Linked DNA regions of Homo sapiens: region 2 is reported to be linked to region 1. Evidence: microRNA targets listed by miRTarBase, many of them from high-throughput screens and not tested one by one. Region 1 holds a microRNA gene; the other region holds the end of a gene's coding sequence.

Region 1 (7,120 bases):
GAAGATTAAATAAGAAAATCCAGATAAACTTTGGTCCTTGTCTCCACTTCCCCAATTAATTAATAAGTAACCTTTAGACCATCTGTAGTGACAAAACAAAAACGCCATAAAAACTGCGATAATAACCTTGAAGTTTTTATTTCAATATTCTCGTTCTGGACAATTTCTTAACAGCTTTAAAATGCAGTATTTTATTTATTAACATTAAATGCGCTAGAACTCAAACAGCCAGACCAAACTGTAAATACAGAACTAGGCACATCTCAATGTTCTGTCTCTGTGTTTACATTACTGGATAAGAAAATTAAGCATTCTTCAACTTTTCTATGGGTCTTAAAATTCATGGAATATGTGCATTTTCCTAATGACCCTTTAAAACTAATACCACATATGAAATGTTATCAAGGCAGAAAACTACATTAATTTCGACTTTAATAAGATGTAACTCATACAACCACTAAGCTAAAGAATAATCTGAAGTCTCAAGTGGGCATGATGATCTTATTTCCATCAAACACTAAAAACTGGCTCTGTGCAGATTGAGCTCTCCTTACCTTTACTGCTCAGTTGAGAGGCTCTTAATTCTCTAAAGTTAGACAAACTATGCAAAACTGTCAATTAAACAGTGTATCATTAAATACATAATAAACTTTAATGTGACACTGAGTTGTTCTCCAGGAAGTTGCAGGCTGCATTTTGTCAGGAGTCAGTGTGTCTTCAAACTACAGGAGAAAACCCAAGTCTGGCTTGTAGTTAGACAGGTCTGCCTGTAAAATGAAGATCTCAAAAGTTTTCAGTAAAATCACCAACACTTTGCAAGCAGCTTTAAAAAGAATTCCTAAAATGTTAAGTGCTTTCTTTCCAAATATAGGCTAAAAATAGAAAGTTGTACATGCAAACGCCAAAAAAAAAAAAAAAAGTTGACCCATTTTTTCCCCTCCAAATAGTTAAGGCTATTTATTAAACCTAAAGCAACATGACCTCTTAAGTCTCAAGCAACTTCAAGGTTAAAGCATTTTAAGAACAAGGGTCAAAGTTGTTTTTTCTCAGGTCAGAGATGAGGCCATTATCAACTTGCTCACTCATCTGAATTTCAAAATGGCTAAATTAACAATGTGAATCTTTTTATACAATACTTACATGGCTTTTTGTTGGCATGTTAGCATGCCTAAGAAAATCTTAATAGAACCAAGAATGTAAAATTTGCCTCACATTCTAAAGCCAGAAACAAATCAAAAGCAATTCCTATTAAACCCTATAGAACCACAGATCACTACCAAACCCACAACAAAACATACACATTTATTAACTTGTTTATTAGATTTAAATCTCAGTTCAAGCCCAATTAAGTTCTGAACACAATGAATACTAGTTTCAGTCTCTAGGGAGAAAAGCCATTTAAGTCTTTGTTATTAAAACATATTTGACTTACATTTTAGAATATTTAAGAAATCATCCAGCAGGCTTCCTATCACACTGTTCCAGTTTTTAAAAAAATTGCTAGTGTATCTCCCCAAAAGCACACCATTTTGCAAACTACCAGACCATGCTGTATTATGAAACTTTTTTTTTTTTTTTTTTTTTTTTTTTGCGTTTAAGTCTTGGTCTTGCGCCCAGGCTGGAGTGCAGTGGCAGGATCTCAGCTCACTGAAACCTCCACCTCCCAGGTTCAGGTGATTCTCCTGCCTCAGCCTCCAGAGTAGCTGGGATTACAGGTGCACGCCACTGCACCCGGCTAATTTTTTATATTTTTAGTAGAGACAGCGTTTCACCATGTCGGCCAGGTTGGTCTCGAACTCCTGACCTCAGGTAATCCGTCTGCCTCAGCCTCCCCAAGTGCTAGGATTATAGGTGTGAGCCACCGTGTCCAGCCGGAACTTTTTAAGCATAGTTTGAAAGCCACGTTTGTCACTAAATAACCAAAAAGACACAATTATTAGGTCTCCTTCAATTCAAAAAGCTTAAGAACTCTGCTAATGTACAATTTGATTTCCATTTTATAAATCACTGTTCATTTCACATCCTGAAAATTTATGTTTTCATCAACTCCAGAATGATAGAATTCTTACCTTTCTATTCAGGAATCCAAGGCTAAGTTCCTTAAATTTCTTAAAGAACACATTAGAGGTGAAAACTTTTGTTAGACTTCAGACAATATTTTTAAAAGCTGATTTCTAGATTTATTGGGTGGTCTAACCTAGTGTTATGGAAGTTTATTTCTTATTACTAAGATAGCCTCTTTTACTCCAAAATACAATGACATTTCTCAAAACTTATCTTTCAAACATCAAGTTTGCCTGTACTTCAGCTTGGGCCCAATTTTACCACTTGGTCCTTTTAAATCTATTATTCAGGTATCCCACATTATTCTACACAAATACACATAGGCTAGAGACAAAAACACATGAAGAAAAGAGAGAAGGCAGAAATGCTGGGTAAAACACTAACTGCCACTTCTTAGTTTCCACTTCAGTGACTTTAAGTCAAATAAGCCTGGAATCAACTATCACTGTTGCCAAAGTCTGGCTTACGTAGGGAGTAGGGAACATAAATGTTAACTACAGACTTAGAAATAAATGAATATCTGAATCTCACCCCACCGCTGCACTCTTGGCATTTGGGAAGAGTGTACACATACATTTAACTGTTACTCTATTTAGCATTTGTTCTTTTTCTAACTCCCATTTTTTTAAGTTGCAGATGCTAAAAGCAGTCTGAGGACCTTGGTCATTTATAGCTTATAAATCACTGACAATCAGAAAGAAAAACTAGTATACAAGCATTTAACAGTTACACTTCAGTTACTCATGTATTGGTAAACTGGTACTTGCTTAATAGAAACAAATTGTACCCCAACCCTAAATTCCATGCTTAAAAAAACTCATCTTTACACATTGCTTTAAACAGAGCGGCATTCTCTCTAAATTTAAATACTTGAGTAATATATGAGCAACATAAATTAACTTTTAGATTAAGTAAAATATCCTGGAATAACACTAACTCCAAAGAAAGCAAAAAGATATACTCTAACTTTACAGATGATCATCAGGTATACAGTATGTTTAGTCATATCGCAATACTTAACAGCCAAATAAATCTAACAACAAAAAATATAGCCAGAATTTATACTGCCAAATCTGACACGCAACCCCAAAAGTGAAATGTTTTTGAATGAAAACAAGACAAGATGTATTTACACAAAAAGTTACACATTTTCTTTAATATTTCATGTATCTTGTACATTTAACAGTGGAAGTCGAAATCTTCAGTAATATTTAATTTTCAAAATCTTCTGGTCACAATCCCCACCAAACTCAACAGGCCGGGACAAGTGCAATACCATACAGAAACACAGCATTGCAACCGATCCCAACCTGTGTAGAAAGGGGTTTGAGTTTCCCTTACTTTTCTACAGACTTTTCACTACCACAGTCAGTTTTGCATGGATTTGCACAGCAGAATATCACACAGCTGGATGCAAACCTGCAAAACTAACCATAGAACAGTGTTCAGTAACAGGACAGTTTGATTGGGCGACAGGCCGAAGCTGGAGTTCTACAGCTAGCAGTACTTTAAGTGCTCATAATGCAGTAGATAACTAAACACTACCTGCACTATAAGCACTTTAGTGCTACAGAAGCTGTCACATCAGATAGACCAGGCAGATTCTACATCGACACAATAAAAGTACACAAAATTAGTAAAAATCATTCATTTGAAGGAAATAGCAGGCCACCATCAGTTTTGCATAGATTTGCACAACTACATTCTTCTTGTAGTGCAACTATGCAAAACTAACAGAGGACTGCAAACAAAAACTATTAAAACACCTATATACTTGCTTGGCTTGAATTATTGGATGAATACATAACTTCTTATGCCAGAAGGAGCACTTAGGGCAGTAGATGCTAATCTACTTCACTATCTGCACTAGATGCACCTTAGAACAAAAAGCACTCAACATCAGCAGGCCCTGCACTTTAAAGCCCAACTTGGCTTCCCGAGGCAGCTGTCACCATAATGCTACAAGTGCCTTCACTGCAGTAGATGCACATATCACTACCTGCACTGTAAGCACTTTGACATTATTCTGACTGGTCACAATCTTCAGTTTTACAAGGTGATGTTCTCTTTTTTCCTGCTAAATTTGAAATAGATAATTAGAATTAACACCTCAAACTCTAACAACTATAAACCATACAAATTCAGCATAATCCCTAATGGGGAAGAAAAAATTAGTTTAATTATCTCAAAGATATGAGGTCCATTTAGACACGTATTTATGCCTTAAGAATTCTTTACAGAAGGCAATCATAACCAACCATCCAACTAGCACTGGAAGTGGTGGCTCTTCCAATGGCTGGCCTCTCCCAAATGGATTGACACATAGAGAAAAAAAACAAAACAAAATGAGACTGCAAATAAATGAGAACTAATTTTGGAACATTTAAAGGCAATTTAGTCCATGTGTACCTTTTAGAGGAAATCTTCACATCCACGTGGCAAAACATTTTCCTCCTCTTCTGGCTTCCACTTAGCAAATACTTGTTGAAATGATTAACAAAATTACTGTTCAGACTACACTTCAAGTGTTATCAGTCAATTGTAGCAGAACGTAAATATCCTGTTTAAATCTATCATCTCAGGTTATATCTACTTTATCACCCAACTTAAAAGAGGGTCTAAAATTATATTTCGTAAACTGCATAAGCCAGTTTCCAAAAATGTACAGGAATATTTACACTGTAATTTTACTACCTTAAAATTAGCAAATCCGTACTTAATGAGTTAGTTTTTCAGAAAAGGTACATTGTCTAAAGAAAGAAACACCTACTTTTACTCTCTAAGAAACCAATCCTATTTATTCAACTTTAATAGCAAGAAAAATTTGTTTTTAAGAAAAGTTCAAGAAAATCAGAATACACTTACCCATTCCAGAAAACTTCCTTTTCAGCAAGTATTCTCAGAAAAGCTACTGGTGCAGTTAGGTCCACGTGTATGACTGGAATAGGGAAAAATAAGGAAAAAAAAGATAAAACATTATTTGCTCAAAATTACTACCACCGTCCAAATCTATATTTGCTATTTTCCAACCTCCTAACAGCAATTAATTCCATCCATTTGTGAGAGTAAGAGTCGAGCAATACTAGCAGGATTTAAAAGCCCAATAATTTACAGTTGAAAAATACGTAAGAGAATAAAGTTGAAAAATCCTTAGCTATCAGATACATGTCTAAATAAGCTCCTAAAATACTTGATTATGATCAGCAGCAATCACCGACTCCACTGTACAGCTCCAGTAAAAGGAAAAAAAAAAAGCAGCCCACAGACTATTCTTCACCACCCCTCCCCCAATCAAGACCTCGTGGCTGCAAGCCGGGATAAAGAGTTGTTTCTCCAACTGCTGTGGTCCTGATGGCATGCCGTTAATTTTCTCTTTTGGTGATATTGCAACGACGAGCCTGCCTTTTTCAGTTCCTTTTCCCTTTGCTGCAGTTTAGGAACAGAAGACCGGGCAGGAACACCCGAGACTGCAAAGTGCCCGCCACGCTCATGGAGCCCGGGCCGGCAGCACATGTCGCACAAGGGGGAGCGCGGCCCTGCGATTCTCCGCGTAGCCGCCAGGGGGCGGCGGGTCAGAGTCAGGCCCCGCCGGACGCGGCAACCCCCCCAACCCGTTTCCCGGCGGCAGCCGCGCGGCGACCGGCGGCGCCGAGGCCCGAGTGCGGCGGGGACGCGGGCGCGCCGCCCCTCCTTTGTGTCCCCCAGCCCCCCCGAGCCCGGCCCAGAGGGGCGGGGGCTCCGCGGCCGCGGTGCCCGTCGCACGCGGCCCGAGGCCTAAGCCGGGAACAATCGGCGGCGGCGCGCAGTCGCCGCCATGTCCCCCGCCCTCACCCCCGTGCAGCCCGCCCCGCAGGAACATGGCGGCGGGGACGCCGCTCCCGCCGAGCCGGGCTGGCCCTCCCGCGCCACACTCCCAGCAAGCGGCCGGGCGCAGGCGGCTCCACGCCGCGGCTGAGGCCGACTGCGGCCTCCTCCGAGGGCCACGGCGGGGAAGTTGCGGGCCCCGCCCCGAGGCTGCCCACGCGGGCTAACAAAGCCCACGCGGAGCGGGGGTGGCGCCCAGGCCGCGCCGATCTCGGCGCCCCTCCGCCCACCCTCGCGCGTACAAAGTTTGGGGAACCGCGGGCTCCCGCCCACGCCACGCCGCCCGCTGGCGCGCAGGTACCTCGTGGGCGCGCCCCCTCCCGGCCCGCGGCCTGCCCCATGTGCCGCCGCCGCCGCCGCTTTGTTCTGGAGGCGCTTTAACTCTCGCCCTCGGGAGAAACTTTCCTACCCAGAGACCCCACGCCCCGCGCGCGCCCCGGGCCCCGGAGAAGGCACGGGCCTCGCACGTCCTCTCCCCGAGGGGCCATTGTGTTCGCCGTCCGCCCACCCGCCTTCGGGTCGGCCCAGGCAGGGTCTGCGCGGGTCCCGGGCGCGGCCGCCACGCGCACGCCGCCCCCTCCCACCCTCCCGCCCCGGCCCTGCCCCCCTCCGCCGGCCCGCGGGCGAGCGAGGGGGCAGCCAGATGCGGCTGCCACACGCCGGGGCGGCCAACGGCCGAGACCCGCCCCGGCCACGCCGCCGCCGCCACGCTGCCCCGGGCCAGTCCGCCCCGGGCCGCTCCGCCCCGCCCGCCAGACCCGGGCCGCACACAACAGGTTTCCCTCCGTCGCCGGAGGGGCGGGCAGACTCACCAGGAGGAGTAGCCGCCACCATCTTCGGCTGGCCGGCCGCGGGCTCCTGCTCCCGCCTCCCCGCCCGCCTGCGCTTTACTACGACCGGAGGCCCCAGGCCGGGGGTGCGGCCGGCCGGCCCGCCCCGCGAGGAGAGCTTCGCGGAGGAGCGCGAGCCCCGGCGGCGCTGCGGTAGTCGTCCCCACCCCCTCGGCCTCGCCCGAGGGCGCGAAGTGGCGCGAAGGCGCAGGTCGGGCGGCGGCGGCGGCACCTCGAAGGACCATGTGGGTGAATGAAGGGCGGCGGCTCCCGCCTCAACGTAAATACGGACAAGCCCCACTCCCTCATTAGCATAAAAAACAAAGTACTTCCGACCTCCCCGCCCGCCCGCCAATCACCGC
Region 2 (7,119 bases), not on the chromosome of region 1:
GCAAGGCTGACAGACACGCCCTAGGACGGGGACCAGAGGTGGGAGACCGTGGTTTCATTTTAAACTCTTCCACAGCTCAAAAATGTTTTACCTGATTAAAAAAAACCCCAAACTAGTTGTTTGATCCTTTTTGAAAGTAACCCTAGAACTCTACAACTAACATGAACTGGCACTGAGGGAGTCCCTTGGGGACCACAGGACAGCCACTCTGACCAGGTGGGGACAGGCCCTACATGTGCTGCCAGAGCCTGGCTTTAACCTTGTCTTGTCTTCTCCATCACAGCAGCCGGAAGTAGAAGTGACCCATGAGACCCTGCAAAGGAATAGGCCGGACTCTGGAGTGGAGGAGGCGTGGAAGATCAGGAAGGAACTGGATGAGGAGACTGAGCGGAGGCGGCAGCTGGAGAACGAGGTCAAGAGCACCCAGGAAGAAATCTGGACCTTGAGGAATCAGGGGCCTCAGGAATCGGTGGTGAGGAAGGAGGTGCTCAAGAAGGTGCCGGATCCCGTGCTGGAGGAGAGCTTCCAGCAGCTGCAGCGGACGCTGGCAGAGGAGCAGCACAAGAACCAGCTGCTGCAGGAGGAGCTGGAGGCACTGCAGCTGCAGCTGCGTGCCCTGGAGCAGGAGACCAGAGACGGGGGGCAGGAGTACGTGGTCAAGGAGGTCCTGCGCATCGAGCCTGACAGGGCCCAGGCGGATGAGGTCTTGCAGCTGCGGGAGGAGCTGGAGGCACTGAGGCGGCAGAAGGGCGCCCGGGAGGCAGAGGTGCTCCTCCTGCAGCAGCGTGTGGCCGCCCTGGCTGAAGAGAAGAGCCGGGCGCAGGAGAAGGTCACAGAGAAAGAGGTGGTGAAACTGCAGAATGACCCCCAGCTGGAGGCAGAGTACCAGCAGCTGCAGGAGGACCACCAGCGCCAGGACCAGCTCAGGGAGAAGCAGGAGGAGGAGCTGAGCTTCCTCCAGGACAAGCTCAAGAGGCTAGAGAAGGAGCGGGCCATGGCCGAGGGCAAGATCACCGTCAAGGAGGTGCTCAAGGTGGAGAAGGACGCGGCCACCGAGAGGGAGGTCAGCGATCTCACCCGCCAATATGAGGACGAGGCTGCCAAGGCTCGCGCTAGCCAGAGGGAGAAGACGGAGCTGCTCCGAAAGATATGGGCCTTGGAGGAGGAGAACGCCAAAGTGGTGGTGCAGGAGAAGGTGCGGGAGATCGTGCGGCCAGACCCCAAGGCGGAAAGTGAAGTGGCGAACCTCCGCCTGGAGCTTGTGGAGCAGGAGCGAAAGTACCGGGGTGCCGAGGAGCAGCTCCGGAGCTACCAGAGTGAGCTGGAGGCCCTCAGGAGGCGAGGCCCCCAGGTGGAAGTCAAAGAGGTGACTAAGGAAGTCATTAAGTACAAGACTGACCCTGAGATGGAGAAGGAGCTTCAGCGGCTCAGGGAGGAGATCGTGGACAAGACCAGACTGATCGAAAGGTGTGATTTAGAGATCTACCAGCTGAAAAAGGAAATCCAGGCCCTGAAAGACACCAAACCCCAGGTCCAGACCAAAGAGGTGGTCCAGGAGATCCTCCAATTCCAAGAAGACCCTCAAACCAAGGAGGAGGTGGCGTCTCTGAGGGCAAAGCTCTCAGAGGAGCAGAAGAAACAAGTGGATCTGGAGAGGGAAAGAGCTTCCCAGGAAGAGCAGATCGCCCGGAAAGAGGAGGAGCTCTCGCGGGTGAAGGAAAGGGTGGTGCAGCAGGAGGTGGTCAGGTATGAGGAGGAGCCAGGCCTGCGGGCCGAGGCGAGCGCCTTTGCCGAGAGCATCGATGTGGAGCTGCGGCAGATTGACAAGCTGCGGGCAGAGCTGCGGCGGCTGCAGCGCCGGCGCACCGAGCTTGAGCGGCAGCTGGAGGAGCTAGAGCGCGAGCGGCAGGCCCGCAGGGAGGCCGAGCGCGAGGTACAGCGGTTGCAGCAGCGGCTGGCAGCGCTGGAGCAGGAAGAAGCTGAGGCCCGTGAGAAGGTAACCCATACGCAGAAGGTGGTGCTGCAGCAGGACCCGCAGCAGGCGCGAGAGCATGCCCTGCTCCGACTCCAGCTGGAAGAAGAGCAGCACCGGCGGCAGCTCCTGGAGGGGGAGCTCGAGACCCTCCGGAGGAAACTGGCTGCACTGGAGAAGGCGGAGGTCAAGGAGAAGGTGGTGCTCTCCGAGAGTGTCCAGGTGGAGAAGGGCGACACCGAGCAAGAGATCCAGAGGCTCAAGAGCAGCCTGGAGGAGGAGAGCCGCAGCAAGCGCGAGCTGGACGTCGAGGTGAGCCGGCTGGAAGCCAGGCTTTCGGAGCTGGAATTCCATAACTCCAAGTCATCCAAGGAACTAGACTTTCTGAGGGAAGAGAACCACAAATTACAGCTGGAGAGGCAAAACCTGCAGCTGGAGACCCGAAGGCTCCAATCGGAAATCAACATGGCAGCGACGGAAACACGAGACCTGCGGAACATGACCGTGGCGGACTCTGGGACCAACCATGACTCCAGACTGTGGTCCCTGGAGAGGGAACTGGATGACCTCAAGAGGCTCTCCAAGGACAAAGACCTCGAGATCGACGAGCTGCAGAAGCGCCTGGGCTCCGTGGCCGTCAAGCGGGAGCAGCGGGAGAACCACCTGCGGCGCTCCATCGTAGTCATCCACCCTGACACAGGCCGCGAGCTGTCCCCGGAGGAAGCCCACCGTGCCGGGCTCATTGACTGGAACATGTTCGTGAAACTCAGAAGCCAGGAGTGCGACTGGGAGGAGATCTCAGTGAAGGGTCCCAATGGGGAGTCCTCAGTGATACACGACAGGAAGTCTGGCAAGAAGTTCTCCATCGAAGAGGCCCTGCAGAGTGGCAGGCTGACCCCTGCTCAGTATGACCGCTATGTCAACAAGGATATGTCCATCCAGGAGCTGGCGGTCTTGGTATCTGGGCAGAAGTAGGCACAGCTCTTGCAACTCTTCGTAACGGCAGACGCTGGCCCTCTCCTACGACGCAGTGACCTCCTTGGTGTCGTCCTCTCCCTTGCCCTGGTGCAGGCCAAGCATTTTATACATACCCTCGCTGCCAGGCTGCTCAGAGTCCCGCCCACATATGAGACAGGCACTGGCTGAAGACAGGCAACTCTCGTCCCAACCATCATTCACCCTGAGTGACGTACTTCATCCTCCAATGACTGGACAACTGCGATGCCTTTTCCTCCCTTTTCCTGTACACTCCCAGCAACAAACTCCTCATGATAACTGCACACAATCTGAAAACCACTGAAGGACAAGCCAACCACAGCAGCCAAGCCCACTCCTTGCAGCATGGGTACTGGTGGCACACCAGACAGTGACACTGCCCCACAAAGGCCTGGGCCCGTGGGGGCTGCTGCCTGGCATGACATCTCTCCAGATTTCTGGCTTAAAACCAACTTTCCATCCGAGAAGCCTCCTCAGTAGTTACTCTGCTCATGAGACAGATCTGGGCTCCAAGCCAGGAAAGGTGAACAGAAACCACAAGTGTCCAGCCCTCGGTGCTGGAGTGGACGTTAATTGTCAGCCACCAGACTGTCCCGGCACCTACAGAGAATGTTTCACAGTTCTGGCATTTAAATCCTTTGATAGTGGATTGTGCTGCTGTTAGCCTTAGTTTCAGTGCTTTACAAGTCTCGCTTATTATCTCACTGGTATTTAGGTATACAAAACAGTTGATTATTCACCACGCCAATATCTGGGTCTCTGTATCTCATGTAGAACATAAGAAAATGGGAACTAATAGGGAAATTTATTTATAGCATGAAAATAAACCTGGTGGCTGGAGTCTGCTTGTACGGTCCACATGTTTCTTCTTTTGCATGCAAGGCTTACTCCCCCGCCCCCCCCCCTTGGCTTTCAGCCAAAATGGATATTCCATCTGTAACAGCTCCTACAGGAAGAACTACTTACTTCCACATGGTAGAAAGAAAAGAGTGAGAAAAAATGTTTTGGAAACCTTGAAACAATTTATTGAATTGCTTTATACAAGATTAACAATCTCCACACCACCCCTAACACCAACATAGTCGCTGCACAAAAGCCACAGCCCCTCTCACACCTAAGAAACGGTCACGCCCGGTAAGTGCTCAGAGACTTTCGCTGCGCCAGGGAAACCCCTGCAGCCCCCAGACCCCGAGGCTGCTCTGCCCCACCCTCTGCTGCGGCCTCGCCTGTAGGTCTGCCTTGCCATGGCTGTTCAGTCATTCGCTCTTTCATTACCACAAATAAAGCATAAACAAGGAAAAGAAATCTCAAACTCCCCATCAAAGAAACGTTTCCCTGAGGCAAGAGGCATCACTAGATTCCTAAAAATGAGGGTATTCTGCTCCAGCTGCACGCGCAATGGTACGTGGGGAGGAGGGAGCACCAAAGGGAAAGGAAGGAGGGCCTGGGACCCGGGTGTTTATGGGCAGAGAAGCCTGGAGAGTCCCTGCTCAGCCTCCACTGCCGGCCTCTGCTTGGCTTTGAGCTCAGCAATACAAATCTCTTCTTTGGCTCTTTTGCTACTACCTAAGACTACTCTGTAAACAAACTGGAAATCCAAGTTGCAAAAAATATATATAACAAAGGGATAAGGAATCCACTTAGCCCAATGTGAAACACGGATTGGTTCTTATGTAAAAAAAGGAGACAGAGCAGAGGCCGGGCCAAAGGGCGGACAGAGGTCTTGCTCCTTGGGAAACCGGGAAGGCCAGCAAACCTCTGAATGAAGGATGAGTTACTGGGCGCTGTACCCTGGGAGTCAGGAGCCAAGAGCGGTCCGTTTTCCCACAGGTGTATGTGCTGAGGACACCGTATACTCTCAACGTGCCTGATCACTTAGCTGGAGCAGTCAGTTCAGACTCACCTTGTGGCACAGACCTCACAAGACAGGCAAGTGCCCTCAAATCCTTGTGAAACAGCCACTGGTTGAGTGGTGACTTAGGAGCTCTGCAGTAACTGTCCTAGTCTCTCTGATCCACTCTCCAAGCTCTTCTGCACATCACCCTTCAGTCGACACATAACCCCACTGCCTGGAGAGCCCCAGGACTTCAAGGCCTATTTCTACCCGGCAGACACTTCACAGAGGCCTGCTTCTGCCGCACTGCCTAAGAATGATTCCTAAGAATACAAACTGGAATGTCTATCTGTGACTTGGGACCCCTGGTATCCTTGACCCTCAGAGAGATGAAGGGCTCTGGGCTCTGCAGTCCACCTCCACGAACTCTGGAAAAACAAAATGGGAGCCCTGGCTATACTGGGACTTGGAATTTGGGGGCCCAGACAACCTTCTAGTCAGGACGGCACAGATAATGATGTGCAAGTGTAAAAAACTCAAAACTGGCTTTCTCTTCAATACAGACATATCTTTAAAAAGGTCTTCGTCTCAGATCCATTCAGAGGGCTGAATGGACATGTGTTGTCGAATTCTGCTCCACCATAAAGGCACTGGAATTATGTCTTCCTATAATATGATGTGTGAAGAACAGTCCCCTTCTATCCAATGCATTTAATGGTAATGATGAAAACTGAGCCCAAAATAGGTGTCTGTAAAAATCCTATCATAATTGTTGAATCTACAAAGGTCTTTTCTCTAAAAGAGCTTCATTGTCATGTTCCGAGGAGAAACTGGCCCCCACAGTGAGCACACCCTAGGTGTTCTTAGTATTTCGCAGGGACAGTGCAGGTCTCCCAGCTGTGGCTCTGGCCTGAGTTTTGTCCGCTTTGAGCACACAGCCTGGGGATGGGGCGGCACTGTGACCATCCAGGGAGCTTACTGCAGCCAGAAGGAGCCCCTGAGCAGTGGGGTGCTCTGAGGTACTCTGACCAAATGCCAGGGGATCAGGCAGATTCACCCACAGGTGTGCCAACTGCTCTGCCACCAGAGCCTGTAAACACTGTGCCTCCCACCACGGCCCAGCGCAAGCCCCAGCCTAGAGCTGCCCCTCTAACAACCGTCTAGCGACAGAGCTGCAAGGCCCAGAGCACGGGGCAGTCTGCACCTCCTGAGCAGCAAGGGCCCGGCTCCCTCCATGGGAGGCACATCAGAAGTGCCGAGAAGCGCTCCGCTGAGAACTCACGCTCCTCCAGAAGAACACCAAGCAGCAGAAAGGGCGCAGTGAGTGTACATCCTGGGAGACCTGCACGTTCTGATTCCACCCAGACCCAAGTGGCAAGCCTTGCCTCTGAAGCGGTCACAATTTCCGTGGTACAGCAGGCCCTTTCCCGTGAAGCTGAGAAGCACCTGGAAAAGAGTAAGAAAAATTAGAACGCAAGTTTTTCATGCTCTCTGATTTCCTTAAGGCAGTAGTAACCAAACTTCAAGGGAGACACCTAAATAGCAAAAGTCCCCAAATGCTGAGTGTTCTAGAGCTCAAACAAGCCATGAGACACCAGCCAGCAGTTATTCGTGTACACTACTCCTGGCCACAGCCTGCAAGCACACTAGCACTGTGAAGGTCGGTGGTCACTCAGCACAGTGTTTCCAGAACAGCAACTCTGCTGTGCAACTTGGGCTACGTCATCTCAGGCTACAATTGCCATCCTGAGGCGAGGCCTGACGATCACACAGAACTCAAGGCAGCAATGATCATTCATTCTCTTACCATCAAAAGACCCTCAGGTCCTGTAAAGACAAATTCAAAGGCACTAGCATTCTCAGTCCACAGAAGAAAGAAAGGAAAGCAACGCAGACACAAGTCACGCAGCTGAAATGCGCAAATAGCTTCTTACTCGCATCTCGTGTCATCCTATAAGCTGAAGTCCATCTAAGGAAGTGAGAGAAGCTCACTTGGATAACCCTGTTTTGGTATAGTTGCTTTTCTGATTGATTTTCTTTTTCCTCGAACTTTTAAACTGATTAAAAAAAATTTTTTTAGAGATGAGGTCTCACTATGTTGCCCAGGCTGGAGTACAGCAGCTATTCACAAGCATGATCACAGCACACTATACCCTCTGATTCCTGGGTTCAAGCAATCCTCCTGCCTCTCAATGCCACCACATCCAGCCTCTGAGAGCCTTAAACAGTTTTAAAAACTGACTCATAATAATGACACATATTTTATGGGGTACATAGTGATGTTTCAACATCTAAAATGTGTAGTGTCACGTTAGAG

What was found. Region 1 holds the annotated microRNA hsa-miR-18a-3p (ACUGCCCUAAGUGCUCCUUCUGG, at 3,881-3,903, opposite strand). A microRNA usually pairs through its seed, bases 2 to 8, with sites in the 3' UTR of a target mRNA and lowers its output. Matches are read on the target gene's strand: a 7mer-m8 pairs with bases 2 to 8, a 7mer-A1 pairs with bases 2 to 7 and ends in A, and an 8mer does both.
Region 2: miRTarBase lists UBN1 as a target of hsa-miR-18a-3p. Seed matches in the 3' UTR shown: 7mer-A1 at 4,167-4,173.

What each region holds. Positions count from the first base shown.
Region 1 is chr13:91,347,580-91,354,699 of GRCh38, reverse strand. It overlaps MIR18A (microRNA 18a), which reads right to left and starts at 3,949; the gene lies at 3,879-3,949. It overlaps MIR17HG (miR-17-92a-1 cluster host gene), which reads right to left and starts at 7,013. Exons shown (of 3, transcript NR_197388.1): 1 at 6,741-7,013; 2 at 4,930-5,002; 3 at 123-4,544. MIR17 (microRNA 17) reads right to left here and starts at 4,095; the gene lies at 4,012-4,095. MIR19A (microRNA 19a) reads right to left here and starts at 3,809; the gene lies at 3,728-3,809. It also overlaps MIR20A, MIR19B1 and MIR92A1. RefSeq lists enhancers at 4,880-5,427, 5,428-5,975 and silencers at 5,525-6,514, 6,565-7,120.
Region 2 is chr16:4,879,212-4,886,330 of GRCh38, reverse strand. UBN1 (ubinuclein 1) reads right to left here. Exons shown (of 18, transcript NM_001079514.3): 18 at 3,930-6,248. The coding sequence ends at 6,199. PPL (periplakin) reads left to right here. Exons shown (of 22, transcript NM_002705.5): 22 at 284-3,824. The coding sequence ends at 2,947. Among named protein-coding and RNA genes, the nearest start is that of UBN1, 35 kb to the right of the region's middle. RefSeq lists an enhancer at 697-1,197 and a silencer at 1,956-2,156.